2 separate regions of the Homo sapiens genome follow, and region 1 is linked to region 2. Evidence: fine-mapped expression QTL. Tissue or cell type: neutrophils. Region 2 holds a variant in brackets; the other region holds the start of a gene. All regions are shown on one strand. Distances are between the middles of the regions.

What was found. PIP is the estimated chance that this variant, and not a neighbour inherited with it, causes the effect.
Region 1: FES starts here. The variant in region 2 is fine-mapped to the expression of FES in neutrophils (BLUEPRINT, PIP 0.95).

The regions. Positions count from the first base shown.
Region 1 is chr15:90,880,689-90,888,894 of GRCh38, reverse strand. It overlaps FES (FES proto-oncogene, tyrosine kinase), which reads right to left and starts at 4,391. Exons shown (of 19, transcript NM_002005.4): 1 at 4,351-4,391; 2 at 3,637-3,858; 3 at 3,310-3,483; 4 at 1,838-1,934; 5 at 1,525-1,708. The coding sequence starts at 3,849. FURIN (furin, paired basic amino acid cleaving enzyme) reads right to left here. Exons shown (of 16, transcript NM_002569.4): 14 at 8,080-8,204; 15 at 7,855-7,965; 16 at 5,438-7,609. The coding sequence ends at 7,017. RefSeq lists enhancers at 3,246-3,675, 5,213-5,342 and a silencer at 4,306-4,815.
Region 2 is chr15:90,826,741-90,834,946 of GRCh38, reverse strand. No RefSeq gene overlaps it. Among named protein-coding and RNA genes, the nearest start is that of FURIN, 38 kb to the left of the region's middle. RefSeq lists an enhancer at 4,768-4,857. The variant TA/A (reference allele first, on the strand shown) is at 4,449.

The DNA of each region.
Region 1 (8,206 bases), 54 kb before region 2:
GAGGCAAGAGAATCGCTTGAGCCTGGGAGGTGGAGGTTGCAGTGAGCCAAGATCGCGCCACTGCACTCCAGCCTGGCGAAAGAATGAGACTACATCTCTAAATAAATAAATAAATAAATAAATAAATAAATAAATAAATAAATAAATGAACTGCTATCCTTGTCTCCTAAACCTCTTCTTCCCACAGCCTTCCCTACATAAGTTAACAGCCACTCCATCTTCCAGCTGCTCCAGGCCAAATCCCCAGAGTGACCCCTGACTCCTCTATTTCACGCCCCACTTCCAATCCATAGGGAAATCCCACTGGCTTCACCTTCCAGGACCTGACCGCGCCTCACCTCCATTGCTACCTCCCCGTCCTAGTGGCCAAAAGCTTGGATCTGGATTATGGCAAGAGCCTGCTCTCTGGCCTCCCAGCTTCTGTCCTTGCTCCCTGAAGTCTATTTGCAGCACAGCAGCCAGAGTGGCCTTATTAAAACAGAGGTCAGGGCTGGGCATGGTGGCTCATGCCTGTAATCCCGGCACTTTGGGAGGCAGAGGCAGGCAAATCGCTTTGAGCCCAGGAATTAGAGACTAGCCTGGGCAACATGGTGAAACCCCATCTCTACTAAAAATACAAAAATTAGCTGGGTGTGGTGGCGCATGCCCGTAGTTCCAGCTACTCGGGAGGCTGAGGCAGGGGAATCACTTGAACCTGGGAGGCGGAGGTTGCAGTAAGCCGAGATCATGCCACTGCACTCTAGCCTGGGCGGCAGAGCGAGACTCTGACTCAAAAAAAGTTAAAACAAAATGAAACAAAAAAACAGAGGTCAGATCATGCCATTCTTGTTCACCCAGAGCCAAAGTCCTCACCATGGCCCTGCTAGACCCTCTATCACCCAGTAGCCCTTGACGCCTGCCTCCTCCAGCCTCGTGTATGACTCTCCCCCTCCCTCACTCTCAGAGGCACCACTGGTTCCTGGCTATTAGTCCCTGGTACTCTCCTACCTCAAGGCCTGTGTAATTGCTGTCCTCCTTTCTGGAATGGTCTTTCTCCAAATAGCCCCATGATTCACTCCCGTACCCCTCTCAGGGGCCTCTTTGAATGTCACCTCTCAAGAGGCTTTCCCAGATCACTCTATGGACAACTGTCACCTCCTCCCTTGCCTCCGTGCTCCCAGGTCCCGATCCACTTCTCTTGCTTTATTTTTCTCCATGGCTCTTAGTGCTCCTCACATCCTCACTCCACTAACACGAAAGATCCCTGAGGACAGATGTTTTTGTCTACCATCGTTCTCTGGTATAATCCAGAGCCCAGAACAGTGCTCAATGAATGTAATAAAACCCTGGAATAATGAGACCCTGGAATAGTGTAATTCAGAGGTAAGTTGCCTGTTTCCAATCCTTGGCCCAGGTCCCGTTCTCATGTGGTTACATGGCCAGCACCTTCCCAGCAATGGATTTTCTGGGTCCTGCCTCTGGGCCTGATGGCTGGGCTTAGGGCTGCTCAAGGGTGGGGGCCAGGGGACGGGGCTGCGGGCTTACAGGATGCAAGCCATCTCCTCGTGCAGGTCCTGCAGTGACCGCAGCAGGCCGGGCAGCAGGAGCTGGTGGTGGTGCTGGTGGTGTAGCTGCGCAGCCCGCACGCCCAGCACATAGCGGTTGTGGTGAGCAAAGAGCTTCCACAGGCTGCGCACATACTTGTCCTTAGCCTTGTCACGGTCCTTGTCTGCCAGAAGGGGGGCAAGGGGTATAGATGACAGCATGGAGGCCCAGGCAGCCCCCACTCTCTGGGTACCCAAGGACAGGTCAGCACTGGCTTCGGATTCCCTCCCTGCCAGCAAGGGAAGCCACGAACCTTTGCTGGCCTCCTGGTACTTGCGCTTGGCTTGGGCACTGTCCCGTGCCAGAGCTCGGTACTGGCTCTTCAGCTTCTCAATGTCCTGGCTGTGGGTCTAGGGAGAGAGGAGAGGCCAGTGTGGGGCAGCAGGTCCCCAGTTGTGGAAGATTCTTGCCTGGGGTGAAGCCCTGGAAAGGTCCTGTCGTCAGGCAAGGAGCACCTGGAGACTTCTGGGAAAGCTGGCTGCTGACGTGAGAGTCAAAGATCAGAGAGCCTGTTAAAGACAGACCCCTTGGGGAGGCAAAGAGGTAGACTACAGGCTACAATGGTCCCTCCTTGGACTGACAGTGGTAGCCTGGTGGCAGGCAGGGCCAGTTGCAGGTGTGCACGGCCTGTGCAGTCACACGGGGCTCCACATGTAGAAGGGCCCTGTGCTTGGTTTCATTCTCCATTATTGCCACCTGGAAATTCCTAGCAATCTTTTAACAAAGACCCCCACAATTTCACTTTGCACTGGGTCCTGCAAATTATGTTCTTGGCAGTAGGAATAGATGACAGCCCGAGATCAGTGTTCTCGTCCCAGTTCTCCTGTTTATGTGCTGGGATATGTTGGGCAAGCGCCCAACCTCAGTTTCCCCATCTGTAACTGAGCTAGATTCCTCGACTAGATCAGTCTTTTTCTTAAAGGGCCAGATAGTAAATAAATATTTTACGCTTGTAGGCCATAGAGCCTCTGTCACAATTACTCAACTCTGTCATTGTAGTCACAGACAATATGAAAACAAAAGGGCATAGCTGTGTTCCAGCAAAACTTTATAAAAATGGGCCCACCCTTGAATCAGATGATCTTTTGGGGCGAGGAATGGGGCCAGGGTGGCCACCAGGGGCCGCTGTGGGTCCATGGCAAGGCTGGGCTCTGCACTTGAGGAAGGGGTGTGGTGCAGGGAGGGTGACCAGCACACTGAATGGGGGCACTAGGCTCCCAGATAAATAGTTCCAAATCACACAGCCTCTAGACTGAGGAGCTGGGTGGGATTCAAACCTAGGCAGGCTGACTTCACGGCCCGAATCCTCGACCTTCGGGGGGCCATGCTGCTGCCCAGTCTCTGGGGCCCTGAGAGGAGGCTGCCTAGGTCGAAGGCAAACAGACTGACCCTCATTCCTCTCCCTGACTCTCAGAACCCAGAGCCAGATGGCACAGTGTGGAGGCGAGTACCGATTCTGAGCTTCTCCCAGGCACGTGACCGGTCACTCATCCTTACACTCCCAGCACTTTGCCCAGGCACAGAAAAAGCACAGAGAGGCCTTGCTGCAAGCCAGCTCAACGTAGGGGAAGGAAGAGAGGAAGCTGCATCAAGGTTAGAGCAAGCCAGGCCTGCGGTCAGGGACTTACACTTCCCCAGTGAATCCAGGGCCTCTTGTGCAAAACAACCCCTTCGAGGCTCAAAATTTAGACAGAAATGACCGAAGCCCCAGTGCTGCCCGCTCACCTTGGTGAGCTCCTGCTGCAGCTGCTGCCACTGCTCGCTGTAGGTCTTGCGAAGCTGCTGCCGTTCCCGGATGAGCAGGCTCAGCTTGCTCAGGGGCCCTGAGTTCAGATCCTCTGCGTGCTGCCGCAGCAAGCGGCTCAGGCCCTCAGTTTGGCTGGTGATCTCAGCCCAGGACTATACAGCACAGATGGGGGAGGCAGGGAGGGGGGCACAATGGCTCCCAAGCATTGGCCTGCCAGATCTCCAGCCACTGCCCCAGAGGGCCCCCAGGAGAGGAAGGAGAAGGCAGATACAGCCAGCACCCACCAGAGTCCCATAGAGACCCACCTGACTGATGGGGCTGTCAGGGCTGATGGCCCGGCTCTGGCCCCCACTGTCCTGCAGGGACATGTGGTGAAGCAGTCCTGCATACTCCCTGTCACTCTTGACCCGCTGGGCCATCCACTTTCTCATGCCCTCCAGTAGACGAAGCTCGGCCTCCTGCATTTGCTGCAGGACCCCGTGGCCCTGGGGGCTGCACAGCTCGGAAGAGAAGCCCATAGTGCTGTTCTGGGGACAGAAAAGGGGCCATCCCTGGAGGCAAGGCAGCAGCTGGAGACGGAGGCATGGGACGAGGAGACTGGGGACTGTAGGGTCAGGATGGACTGCAGACGGGGAGGAGGTGGGGTCCTGCCTCGCTCACACGCAGCCATGGGTACCCAGCAGCAGCCTGGCCTGGGGACTGGCCCTCATTGCTTCCTTAGCGTCAGGGTCTCCTCCGCACGTTCGGGAACAGGAGCCAACCTGGAGCCTCCCTCCCCAGGCCCTTCCACCCACCACCCCTTACAGGGACACCCTTGCCCAGGTCCTCGACAGGCCAAGCCTGCCCCAGCTGAAGCCTCAGGCGCCCACAGCCTGAGCCCTGCCCCTGCGGCCATCCCCGCCCTTCCGCGGCCCCTACCCCCACCTGGGTGGGTCTCTGGCCCTCGGAACGCCTGCTCTGCCCCTGCCTGCCGCGCCCCCAGCTCCCACCGCTCCTCCAGGCCCCGGGGCTAGAGGTACCCGCACGGGCAGCTGCTCCTGGGACGGCCTCGGACCGACTCAGGCCCGGTGCGGACCCCGGCCAGTTCCTGATTCCGCGCTTCCTCCTCCCGCGGTTTCAGTTGGCCCAGGCCCCGGGGCGGGCCTGTGGAGGGGAAGGGGCGGGCGGGACCGGCCCGACCGCCCCGACGCCTGCCAGCCCCCCTGCTCCGCGCTGGGCCGCAGCCTCTAGCCGGCCGCACGGCCACGGAAACGGAAGGGAGGAGGGGGCCGGGAAAGAATGGCCCAGCCAAGAGCCGCCCGCGCCCCGCAGGCCCCAGGGCCCGGCAGCGCCCCGGGAACACCGGGAAGGGGCGCAAGGTGGGGGTCAGGAGGGGGAGCCCAGGGCGAGGCCCCAGGCAGATGCTGGGCCCAGGGAAGCCCAGGGTGTCCGCGGGTACTGAGGGGAGGCGCGCAGTCCTAGCACCAGGCCAGGGCCACCGCAGAAGAGAAAGAGGGAACCCTGGTCCCAGCCCTCCCCACCTCACGGAATTCCCTAAGGAGAGGCTCAGGCGCCAGCTTCCATTTGAATAAAATTTCCAAGTAAATATCCCGAACAGAGACTGCTTCTCGGATACAGATCCTAGTGGTTTTGTCCCCATCCTCCTACCCCCAGGCAGGGGCTTCCTGTCCCAAGGGAGACCTGGGGAAATCAAGGGGCAGGGGTTGGGGAGCGGACAGGCGTGGAGTTTTCCATTTGGGACTCAGGCTCCCCACAAGAAGTCATCTTGATTCAGTCAGGCCTCCCTCCACCTTAGGCCTCAGCCCTATAGCCTGTGGCGACCAGATCACTTCAGCCCAGGAAGACACAATAGGCCCAGTTCTTCACACTGCTGGAAACCAGGACTTTGGGAGTTTAGTGCTCAGCTCCTGAGGACCAGGGGTCACCAGCCCCACCCCAGGGGCACCAGCTCCTCCACTAGGGGCTGGCGCATCCTCCCGCCCCTTGGAGGACTTTGGCCTTCTGACTTGGGCCCACATCCAGGCAGGCAGGCCACTGTGTAGGCCTAACTGGCCCCCTATCCTCAGCTGCGATGCAGGAGCAACGGTACCACACTGGAGACTGGGCCTGGTTTGCATAGTCTGCACGTTTAATCACTTTAAAACCTCTAACATTATCTCATGTCCATTAAATAGAACCAGCAATGCTGGGCCTGTTTAAATTACAAGAAAAAAATCACTGTGCACCAACCCAGCATCTTACAAAACCAGCCGGGCTGGCCACGAGGGCAGGGGGATGGGAGAGGAGGGGGCACCCCTGGGCAGATGGCTGGGTACCAGGAATGGCTAGGGTAGAAAAGAAAAGGGGACTCCCAGATGGGAGGGGACTGATTGTCCTAATGGGAGGGGTGCAAAAGGCACGTCAGAAGAGGAGGTTTGAGGGGGGCATGACAGGTCAGTGCTTTCTCCACCAGGGCACAGTGTTGGGGGGGCTCAGTGCCACCACCTGCCCACCTCTGGCACTTGGAGAGCCAGTGACCTATGAACCCCCGGCATGGCGAGCCCCACTTGAAACACAGATGTCAGCCTGCCCCTCCCACTGGGACCCCCTTTCCTTGAGCCCGCCTGGCTGGCCCGCCTCTTCAGGACTTGGGGCTCAACTATTCCTCACTCCTCAGCAACATGCTGCAGCCCCCACACCTCAGGGCCAGGGCAGCCAGGGAGGAGCAGGGCGGACGGTGGGTGTGAGAACGTGGGTAGTCCAGCTGCTACCCCCATTAAAAATACAAAAACAAATCATCAGCATCTAAAGTGAAATAATCACAAAGTGAAAATATATCCTCAAACAGCCCCTGAGATCCCCACAGGGGAAAGCAGCATCGGGTGGGAGGCCAGAGAGGCCGGCTGGGCCAGCGCCCCTCCCCACCACCCACCCAGGGGCTCCAGGTCTGTGAGTGCCAACAGCCCAGGCAGCCCGGGCTCAGAAAACAGGGACTTGGGCCCTGACGGGAGAGGCGGGTGCAAGAGAGGGGAGGGTGGTCAGGACACCAGCACAGGGTTCAGCCAGAGCTTCGGCCTTGGCTGCGCCAGCCTGGTGGCCAGTGGTGGTGGAGGCACGGAGCACAGGGGTGGGTCATGGGACACAGGCCACAGGCCACATGCCACGTGCACACCTGGAGGCACCTGCCTTGCCTTGGTCCCTTCCTATGATGGCTGCTGCCGCCAAGACTCACCAGAGCTGGGGGACAGGGTGGAGGGTGCAGAAGCCCTTGGAGAGGTGGCCTCCTCCCTCAGATATCTCCTAGGCCAGCCCCCGACTGCCTGGATGGGACCATTATTGCTTTAGAGGGACAGGGAAGGGCAAGAGCTGCGGCCTGGGTCAGGAATCCCAACAAGCAAGGGCTGCCCCTCTTCACTCCGCAGGAACTCTGGCTGGGGCCGGGGCCGGGGCAAGCTGCCCTAAAGGTTTCACTCCTTTCTCCACATGGAAGGGGTGCTGAGGGTGGGGTACGGCCCTCCCCACGCCCCAGCTGGTCCTGGGCCCACCTCAGGTGGCCAGGTGGGCCCGAGGGTAGGATGGGAAGCAGTCTCCACCCCTCTTGCCTCCCAGCTGGGGTCCAAACCCAGTCCCAAGATAAAAAAATACTTTGGTGAATTAAAAAGTGCCCAAGGAGGGGATTGGCTTGAGGGGGTGGGCAGTGGGCTCATCAGAGGGCGCTCTGGTCTTTGATAAAGGCGGTCCTCTCGCCCCGGCCCTCGTCCTCTTCTGAGTCAGACGGGCACTCCTCCTGCCAGGCTTCAGGGGGCAGCCCCTTGTAGGAGATGAGGCCACGGTCCATGGTGTACACCTTCACCCCCCGAAAACTAAAGCCAGAGCGCAGCTGCAGGACCAGGAAGACAGTGACGAAGACCAGCACGATGAAGGCGCAGCTGAGGCCGGCCACCACCTCAGGCAGGTGTGAGGGCAGCAGCCCTGCCCGCAGCCGTTGCCCCGCCTCCACCTCCGGGGGCAGCCGAGGTGGCTGCTGCTGTGGCGGGGACTCTCGGCTGCTCTGGCTTTGCCGGGAGCAAGTCTGCTCCACAGGGTCCAAGGAGGCGTGGCTGGGGCAGCTGAGGCAGTCTGTCAGGGCCGGCCCCTGGCATGTGGCACATGAGGCGTGGCAGGGGGCGCAGACGCTGGCCCGGATGGTCTCCACGTCATTCTCGGTGCTATAGTGCGTATCGAGGACTTGGGGGGCGAACCCTGGAGGGCAGTGCTGGACACAGCTCTTCTGGTGCAGGGAGAAGCCTTCCTCGCACACTGCCGGCGTGGGAGAGAGGGCAAGTGTGTGTCAGCTAAACAGACTGTAGCCCCAGGACCACAGCAGCCCCAAGCCAAGTCACCACATCCCCAGGATCCTCCAGCCCCAGGACTGTGGTCATCCCAAGAGCCCCAGGGGCCCTAGGTCTCTTGAGACTTTTTTCTGTTAGAGCTGGGCTTCAGGACAGGCACCCGCCTTACCCCCAGACTCAGGCCCCCAAAGCCCAACAGCACCCACTACTGACCCACACAGGCCTGACTGGACGTGAGGGTCTTGCAGCCACTGCTTTCTGGAGGTACGGGCAGCCCCTCAGGGGCGGTGCCATAGAGTACGAGGGTGAACTTGGTCAGCGTCCCTGTTCCAGAGCGGGGAGGAGGCAAGAGTTAAGACAGTGCTGGCACCACACCCAGTGCTCGAGATCCTGCCAGCCCTCCACCTCGTACCCCTACCCCTCAAGTGCCCCCAGTACCATAGTTGTTGGCTTCGCTGGTGTTTTCAATCTCTAGGACCCACTCGCCAGAGGGATCCTCATCCCAGGAATGAGTTGTCATGAAGGCCCAGTCATTAAACCCATCTGCGGAGTAGTCATGTGGCCT
Region 2 (8,206 bases):
GGTTGGGGCTCAGAAAGTGATACCCCAGACTGGGGCTCTGACATGCTGAGGACTGCAAAGCTGCCTAACCTTGTCTTGTACCCTCCCTACCCCCGAGTGGAGGGAGGGACTCTTCCTGGAATTCCTTATCTGACTAAGAAAGTTTCTTTCCAAAAGAATTGCAAAACCAGGTACAGCAGCATGCACCTATAATCCCAGCTATTTAGGAGGTTGAGACTGGAGGATCACTTGAGCCCAGGAGTTTGAGACCAGACCAGGCAACATAGGGAGACTCCGATCTCAAAAAACAACAACAATAAAAGAATTGTGGTTGTCTCGGCCGGGCGCAGTGGCTCATGCCTGTAATCCCAGCACTTTGGGAGGCCGAGGCGAGTGGATCACCTGAGGTAAAGAGTGTTTGAGACAAGCCTGGCCAACATGGTGAAACCCCATCTCTACTGAAAATACAAAAAATTAGCCGAGAATGGTGGCACGTGCCTGTAGTTCCAGCTACTCGGGAGGCTGAGGCAAGAGAATTGCTTGAACCTGGGAGGCGGAGGTTGCAGTGAGCCGAGATCGCACCATTGCACTCCAGCCTGGGCAACAAGAGTGAAACTCTGTCTCAGAACGAACAAACAAACAAACAAATCCAACTTTTGTTCCTTTGCAGTTCCGCCCTCACCTTCCCATAACTTGTCCCACTCAGCTCCCAGTCATTTGCTAACCACTGTCTGAGCACTGAGCCTATTCATTTCTCCATTTTTCCTCTCCTCAACCTTCTGGCCCCTCTTTGAGTTCATATTTTGCATGTCTCATGTGCATGTAATAAGCCTGTTCTTTTTTCTCTTGTTAACTTGATTTTTGTAATAGAGGTGCCGGTCATGACCCTTTACATGGGGAGAAAAGGGATCACCCTCCTTCTGCCCCTGCAGTTCAGAGAAAGGTAAGTCCAAACAATTTTAGATTAGATTGCACCGTACCAGTTCTATTTTAAACTAAATATATTCTATTTTACTTGAGTTTAACAGAAAAAAAAAAAAAGGCAGATCAGGTGCTATGGTTCACACCTGTAATCCCAGCACTTTGGGAGAACAAGGTGAGAGGATCCCAGGAGCTTGAGACCAGCCTGGGCAACATAGTGAGACCCCTGTCTCTACAAAAAAATTTTTAAAAACTAGCTGGGTGTCAGCTGCGTGTGGTGGTTCACACCTGTAATCCCGGCACTTTGGGAGGCCGAGCCAGGCAGATCACGAGGTCGGGAGTTCGAGACCAGCCTGGCCAATATGGTGAAACCCCGTCTCCACTAAAAATACAAAAAATTAGCTGGGCATGGTGGTGCGCACCTGTAGTCCCAGCTACTCAGGAGGCTGAAGCAGAAGAATCGCTTGAACCCGGGAGGCGGAGGTTGCGGTGAGCCGAGATTGTGCCACTGGACTCCAGCCTGGGTGACAGAGCCAGACTCCATCTCGAAACAAACAAACAAACAAACAAACAAACAGACAAACTAGCTGGGTGTGGGAACATGTGCCGCCTGTAATCCTAGCTACTCAGGAGGCTGAGGCGGAAGGATCACTTAAGCCCAGAAGTTCAGAGCTGCAGTGAGCCATGATTGTGCCACTGCACTCCAATCTGGGCAACAGAGTGAGACCCTGTATCTGAAAAAAAAAAAAAAAAAAGGCAAAAAAACCCAGAAAACTTGCTGAATCTTAGATAAATATTTACTTTCCACAAGAGCTATTACTTCATAATGAATTCCTCATGGTTAAGAAAAAAGATTATGAAATTAATTAAGACATTGGAGTCTTGGGGTAAAAACTCAGATGTTTCACTTTGAGCAAGATCAGTCATTTCTTGCGATAAAAAAGGCGACCACTCCCCTCAAACATCCTCCCTCTTCCTCTTGCCCACCCCAGCTCTGATTTTGATGCTGATATTTTTACTTTGTCAAGGTTTATTTATTTTTATTTTTATTTTATTTTATTTATTTATTTTTGAGACAGAGTCTAGCTCTGTCACCCAGGCTGGAGTGCAGTGGCGTGATCTCAGCTCACTGCAACCTCTGCCTCCCAGGTTCAGTCTGGTCTCAAACTCCTGACCTCAGGTGATCCACCTGCCTTGGCCTCCCAAAGTGCTGGGATTACAGGTGTGAGCCACCACGCTCAGATTTTGTCAAGGTTTGTAACACTTTTACTTTAAAACCATAATTCTCCCAGTATTTAGTCTTTTTTTTTTTCTTTTTTGAGAAGGAGTTTCACTCTTTCTGCCTGCAACTTCTGCCTCCCGGGTTCAAGTGATTCTCTTGCTTCAGCCTCCTGAGTAGCTGAGATTACAGGCGCACGCCACCACGCCCAGCTAATTTTGTATTTTTAGTAGAGATGGGGTTTCACCATGTTGGCCAGGCTGGTCTTGAACTCCTGACCTCCAGTAATCCACCCACCTCAGCCTCCCAAAGTGCTGGAATTATAGGCGTGAGCCACCATGTCTGGCCGCCTTTTTTTTTTTTTTTTTTTTGAGATGGGGTCTTGCTCTGTCGCTCAGGCTGGAGTGCAATGGTGTGATCTCAGCTTACTCTAACCTCTGCCTCCCGGATTCAAGTGATTCTCCCTACTCAACCACCCCAGTAGCTGGGATTACAGGCACTGGCCATCATGCCTGGCTAATTTTTGTATTTTTGTACACAGAGTTTCGCCATGTTGTCCAGGCTGGTCTCAAACTCCTGAGCTCAAGTGATCCACCCATCCTGGCCTCTCAAAATGTTGGGATTACAGGCATGAGCCACCATGCCTGGCTATCAGCATTTAGCCTTATAATGAAATTGAAATAGATTCCATTCCATTCTTTTTTTTTTTTTTTTTTTTTGAAGCAGAGTTTTGCTCTTGTTGCCCAGCCTGGAGTGCAGTGGTGTGATCTTGGTTCACTGCAACCTCTGCCTCCCGGGTTCAAGTGATTCTCCTGCCTCAGCCTCCCAAGTAGCTGGAATTACAGGCATGCACCACCACGCCTGGATAATTTTTGTATTTTTATTTTTAATGTATTTATTTATTTTTGAGATGGAGTTTTGCTCTTCTTGCCCAGGCTGGAGTGCAATGGCGCGATCTCCGCTCACGGCAACCCCTGCCTCTGGGGTTCAAGCGATTCTCCTGCCTCAGCCTCCTCAGTAGCTAGGATTACAGGCATGCGCCACCACGCCCGGCTAATTTTGCATTTTTAGTAGAGAGGGGGTTTCTCCATGTTGGTCAGGCTGGTCTTGAACTCCTGACCTCAGGTGATCTGCCCGCCTCAACCTCCCAAAGTGCTGGGATTACAGGCTTAAGCCACCACACCCGGCCTTCCATTCCATTCTTTAATGACATTTTGTCCAGGTGCCTGAAGAGTTTTTTCTTTATCCTTAAAGTTCAGTAACTTGGCCGGGCGCAGTGGCACATGCCTGTAATCCTAGCACTTTGGGAGGCCGAGGCGGGCTGATCACCTGAGGTCGGGAGTTCGAAACCTGCCTGACCAACATGGAGAAACCCTGTCTCTGCTAAAAATACAAAAATAGCTGGGCATGGTGGCACATGCTTGTAATCCCAGCTACTCGGGAGGCTGAGGCAGGAGAATCGCTTGAATCGGGGAGGCAGAGGTGGTGGTGAGCTGAGATCTTGCCATTGCACTCCAGCCTGGCAACAAGAGCGAAACTCTGTCTTGAAAAAAAAAAAAAAAAAAGTTCACTAACTCAGCCAGTATGTTCCTATGTTGGTCATTGTGAATTTGCTTCCCTGGAGTAGTCATGCCCTCGCAGTCTGTAGAGTTGGTTCTTCGTTTCAGGAAGACTTTCTCTAAATAGCTTTTTGTTTCAGTTGTTGGATAATCTACTTCAGGGAGTGCAGTCACCCTGATGTTGGAAGGTCTGGGACCCATAATGGTCATTTTCTCTCTAATTGTTTTAATTTGTCTTTTTCTCTAAATTCACTGCAATTATTTCAAGTTTCTCTCCCACACTATTCCCTTGCTTTTCAGATGCATGTACTATGTTGTAACTCTGTTTTTAGATGTGTCATGGTCCTGTTTTGGTTAATGCGTTTCCTCCCCTCTGCAGTTTCTTTGCATTTCCTGATATATATATTTTTTTTGTCATCTCTCCTTTTTTTCTTTTCTTTGAGACAGAGTCTCGCTCTGTCACCAAGGCTGGAGTGCAGTGGTGCAATCTTGGCTCACTGCAACCTCTGCCTCCTGGGTTCACACCATTCTCCTGCCTCAGCCTCCTGAGTAGCTGGGATTACAGGCGCCCGCCACCACACCCGCCTAATTTTTGTATTTTTAGTAGAAACAGGGTTTCACCATGTTGGCCAGGATGGTCTCAAACTCCTGGCCTCAGGTGATCTGTCCGCCTTGGCCTCCCAAAGTGTTGGGATTACAGGCGTGAGCCACCGTGCCTGGCCTGTCATCTCTTCTTTGTGCTCTTTTCATTCAACTTTTTTTTTTTTTTT[TA/A]AGAAATGGGGCTTCACAAGGTTGCCCAGGCTGGTCTCAAACCCCTGGGCTCAAGTGATCCTCCCACTTGGCCCCCCTAGCAGGTGGGCCTGACAGGCGCGCACCACTGCACCCGGCTCGTGCTTTTTATACCTGGTTCATATTCTCATTCACTTTTGTCTAGCGCGAAGCTATCAGTTCCAAGAAAGCCACTCAGGTCCTTGGCTCTGCTGGCTTTCAGCTGTGCCCCTGTGTGATTTCCTTCCCTTTCCTGGCACTTGCGTGTAGGGAGGCGTTGCAAGTTTTTTTCATCTTGCTCGGTTAGCTAACTCCTGACGTTTTACTTGTTCTGCTACGGGAACCTTCCTGTCTTCCCCGAAGAAGGGCAGTTTTGAGGCTGCATTGTTTTCAGTTGGGTAGCCTGAGTGCGCAGAGGTGGGTGGGAAAGTCCCCCCGGCTGAGGCCACCCTGCTGGGGGCCACAGGTCTTCTCTGTCCTGTCATCCCCTAAACATCCTGTGCCCAGCCTTCTGCCCTACTCCTCACCCCAGCAGCTGAACACGATAGCCTTGGAGGTCCCTTCTCACTCTGTCACCCAGACTGGAGTGCAGTGGCAAGATCTCGGCTCACTGCAACCTCCGCCTCCTGGGTGCAAGCAATTCTCCTGCCTCAGCCTCCTGAGTAGCTGGGACCACAAGCGTACCATCACAGCCAGCTCATTTTTGTATTTTTAGTAGAGATGGGGTTTCACCATGTTTGCCAGGATGGTCTTGGATTCCTGACCTCAGGTGATCCACCCACCTTGGCCTGTTGGCTCACTCTTTTCCCAAAAATTTGTCATTGTTGTGCATGTGGTCAGGTATTGGGGTTGGGGAGTTCGCCCCTCATTCTGCCTTCTAAAGTCTGAACTCCCCTCCTCAGGAGGCTCTGCAAAATGCCAATCTCCAGGGCCTGTCCACCCCAAGAGCAGAGGTCCGTGGGTCTGGGTGGGACCTCTCCCTCCCGCCCAAGTGATGCACCTGAGCAGGCTTGGGGTTGAGAAGTGCAGACTCATCCACCAGGAGCATTTGCATTTTACTCAAATTAAAGAAATGCAGCCCTGCTTATGTAAGTCTATATGGCACTGAAATTGAACAGTCCTGGAATGTCCAAGTGGGTGGGCGGACTTGATTATCAGCTTCCAGTGAGGGTCATTCTATTGGTGAGGCCTCGAGGCACAGAGAGGCGAAGTGACTTGCCCAAGGTCACCCAGCATGTCGGCAACAGGCAGGTTTGAAGAACTGGAAATGGTGACTCCAGACCTGGGGGCTGGGATCAGGGTGGCCCACTTCAGGGAGCAGGAAGGTCTTAAAAATTTAATTTTAATTTTTTTTTTTTTAAGACGGAGTCTTGCTCTGTCGCCCAGGCTGGAGTGCAGTGGCGCAATCTCAGCTCACTGCAACCTCCACCTTCTGGGTTCAAGTGATTCTCCTGCCTCAGTTTCCCAAGTAGCTGGGACTACAGGCATGTGCCACAACACCCTGCTAATTTTTTCTATTTTTAGTAGAGAAAGGGTTTCACCATGTTAGCAAGAATGTTCTCGATCCCCTGACCTCGTGATCTGCCCACCTCGGCCTCCCAAAGTGCTGAGATTATAGGCATAAGCCACTGCACCAGGCTAAATTTTAATATTTTTTTTTGAGACAGAGTTCACTCTGTCCCCCAGGCTGGAGTGCAGTGGCATGATCTCGGTTTGCTGCAACCTCCACTTCCTGGGTTCAAGCAATTCGCGTGCCTCAGCCTCTCGAGTAGCTGGGACTACAGGCATGTACCACCACGCTCGGCTAATTTTGTATTTTTAGTAGAGATAAGGTTTCACCATGTTGGCCAGGCTGGTCTCTAACTCCTGATCTCTAGTGATCCGCCGGCCTCGGCCTCCCCAAGTGCTGGGATTATAGGCGCGAGCCGCCGCACCTGGCCAGGAAAGTCTTTTAGTATGAGGAACCCATTATCATTTCCGGGCCTCACAGAAGAAATGGTTGTGGCCTTCCCATGGGAACTTTTGATCTTGAACCTCACGGAGGGAGAATGGCCAGACCAACGGCTCACTGCCACTCCCAGCCCTCCCAGGAGCAGTGACCTCTCCACCTCCCCTCGTCCCCGCCCCGCCCCCATCCACGCACGGTCCAGGCAGCAGTGTCCCAGCAGAGCTGAGCCCAGTGGTGAGTGTGGGCCGGGCAGCGGGTGGAGAGGTCCAGGTAAGGAAGCAGTATCAGAAAAGGTGGGGAGACTGGGATTAGGTCGGGTCAGGCCTTTCTGGGAGGATCCCACATCCATCCGGGGAAGAAGCTACAGGCTACTTGGGCCATGACTAGCAGCAAAGCTTGGCCCTCTGACCGGGACCCTGGAGGGCAGTTGGGCCAGGATGTCCTGCTGGGGCGCCCTGGGTGTCATCAACCCCTGGCGCTGTTCTCATCTTGCCCCACTTTGCAGTGATCTGGAGGGGCCAGCCTGGTGAACATCAGGCAGATCCTCATTCGTTTCATGGCCTTGGTGATTCAGCTGCTTTGGCTGTGAAAAGGGAAAAATTACTGGACCCCTCCGAATCCCCTGCGGTTGTGAGGATGAATTCGTGTGAAGAGCTGAGCTGAGATACAAAAATCGCAAGGCCGGGCGCGGTGGCTCACACCTGTAATCCCAGCACTTTAGGAGGCCTAGCTGGGTGGATCATTTGAGGCCAGGAGTTTGAGACCAGCCTGGACAACACAGTGAAACCCCCACCTCTACTAAAAATACAAAAATCAGCCAGGCGTGGTGGCGTGCACCTGTAATCCCAGCTACTTGAGAGGCTGAGGCAGGAGAATCACTTGAACCCGGGAGGCGGAGGTTGCAGTGAGCCGATATCATGCCACTGCACTCCAGCCTGGGACGACAGAGCGAGACTCCATCTCAAAAAAAAAAATGACTTGAACCCGGAAGGCAGAGCCTGGTGCACTCTAAACACAGGAGCTCAGGAACCGCGAGAGAGCTCAAAATAGATCCATGACACAAGGTGACAAAGATAGTATTGGAATTTTTTGGTGAGGATATGGGAAAAAGGATCCAGCTGTTCACCACAAAACTGAAATTTAATTTCTCTGGGACGTTTCTGCTCTTTCCTTGCTAAACTTCCCTCCTTCTCCTTTCCCGCCTCCCACCCGGCCCCAACATCCCCTCTATTGTCCAGCCCCAGCCTTCTGCTGGCACAGCCCTGACCAAAAGCGGGGTGTGGGGGGTTGCCCACAGCGGCCCCCAAGTGTCCCTGGGACGCGTGAATCACGACAAGGGTTACAGCTTGCCAGGCTCCCACTGCACACGAAGCACATTTGGACATTGCAGACTCTGCATCTCTGTGGCAAGGACTGCCACAACCCCCTTGGACCCAGGAACCCCCAGGAGGAAGCGCTAGTACCGGGTGTCAATGTGGCTACCCAGCGCCCGCTGCTTCTGAAGCTAACCTCGAATGCGTCGCCCACATCCATGGCTTCTCTTCTGGGCGCTTCACAGTAACCGTGGAGTAAGGTGGGTAAGTTACCGCTACTCATTTTCCTTGAAATCCCATTTCTCAGGTGAGAGAGAAAAGCTCAGAGAGGCCAAGGGCTCGGGGCAGCTGTGGTGCCACGCCCAGCCCTTTGGTCTGAACTGCCCCATAGACTGCATACAGGTCCCATTGTGTCCGGACTTGGTGGGTTCTTGGTCTCACTGACTTCAAGAATGAAATCGCAGACCTTCACGGTGAGTGCTGTAGCGAGTTCTACAGT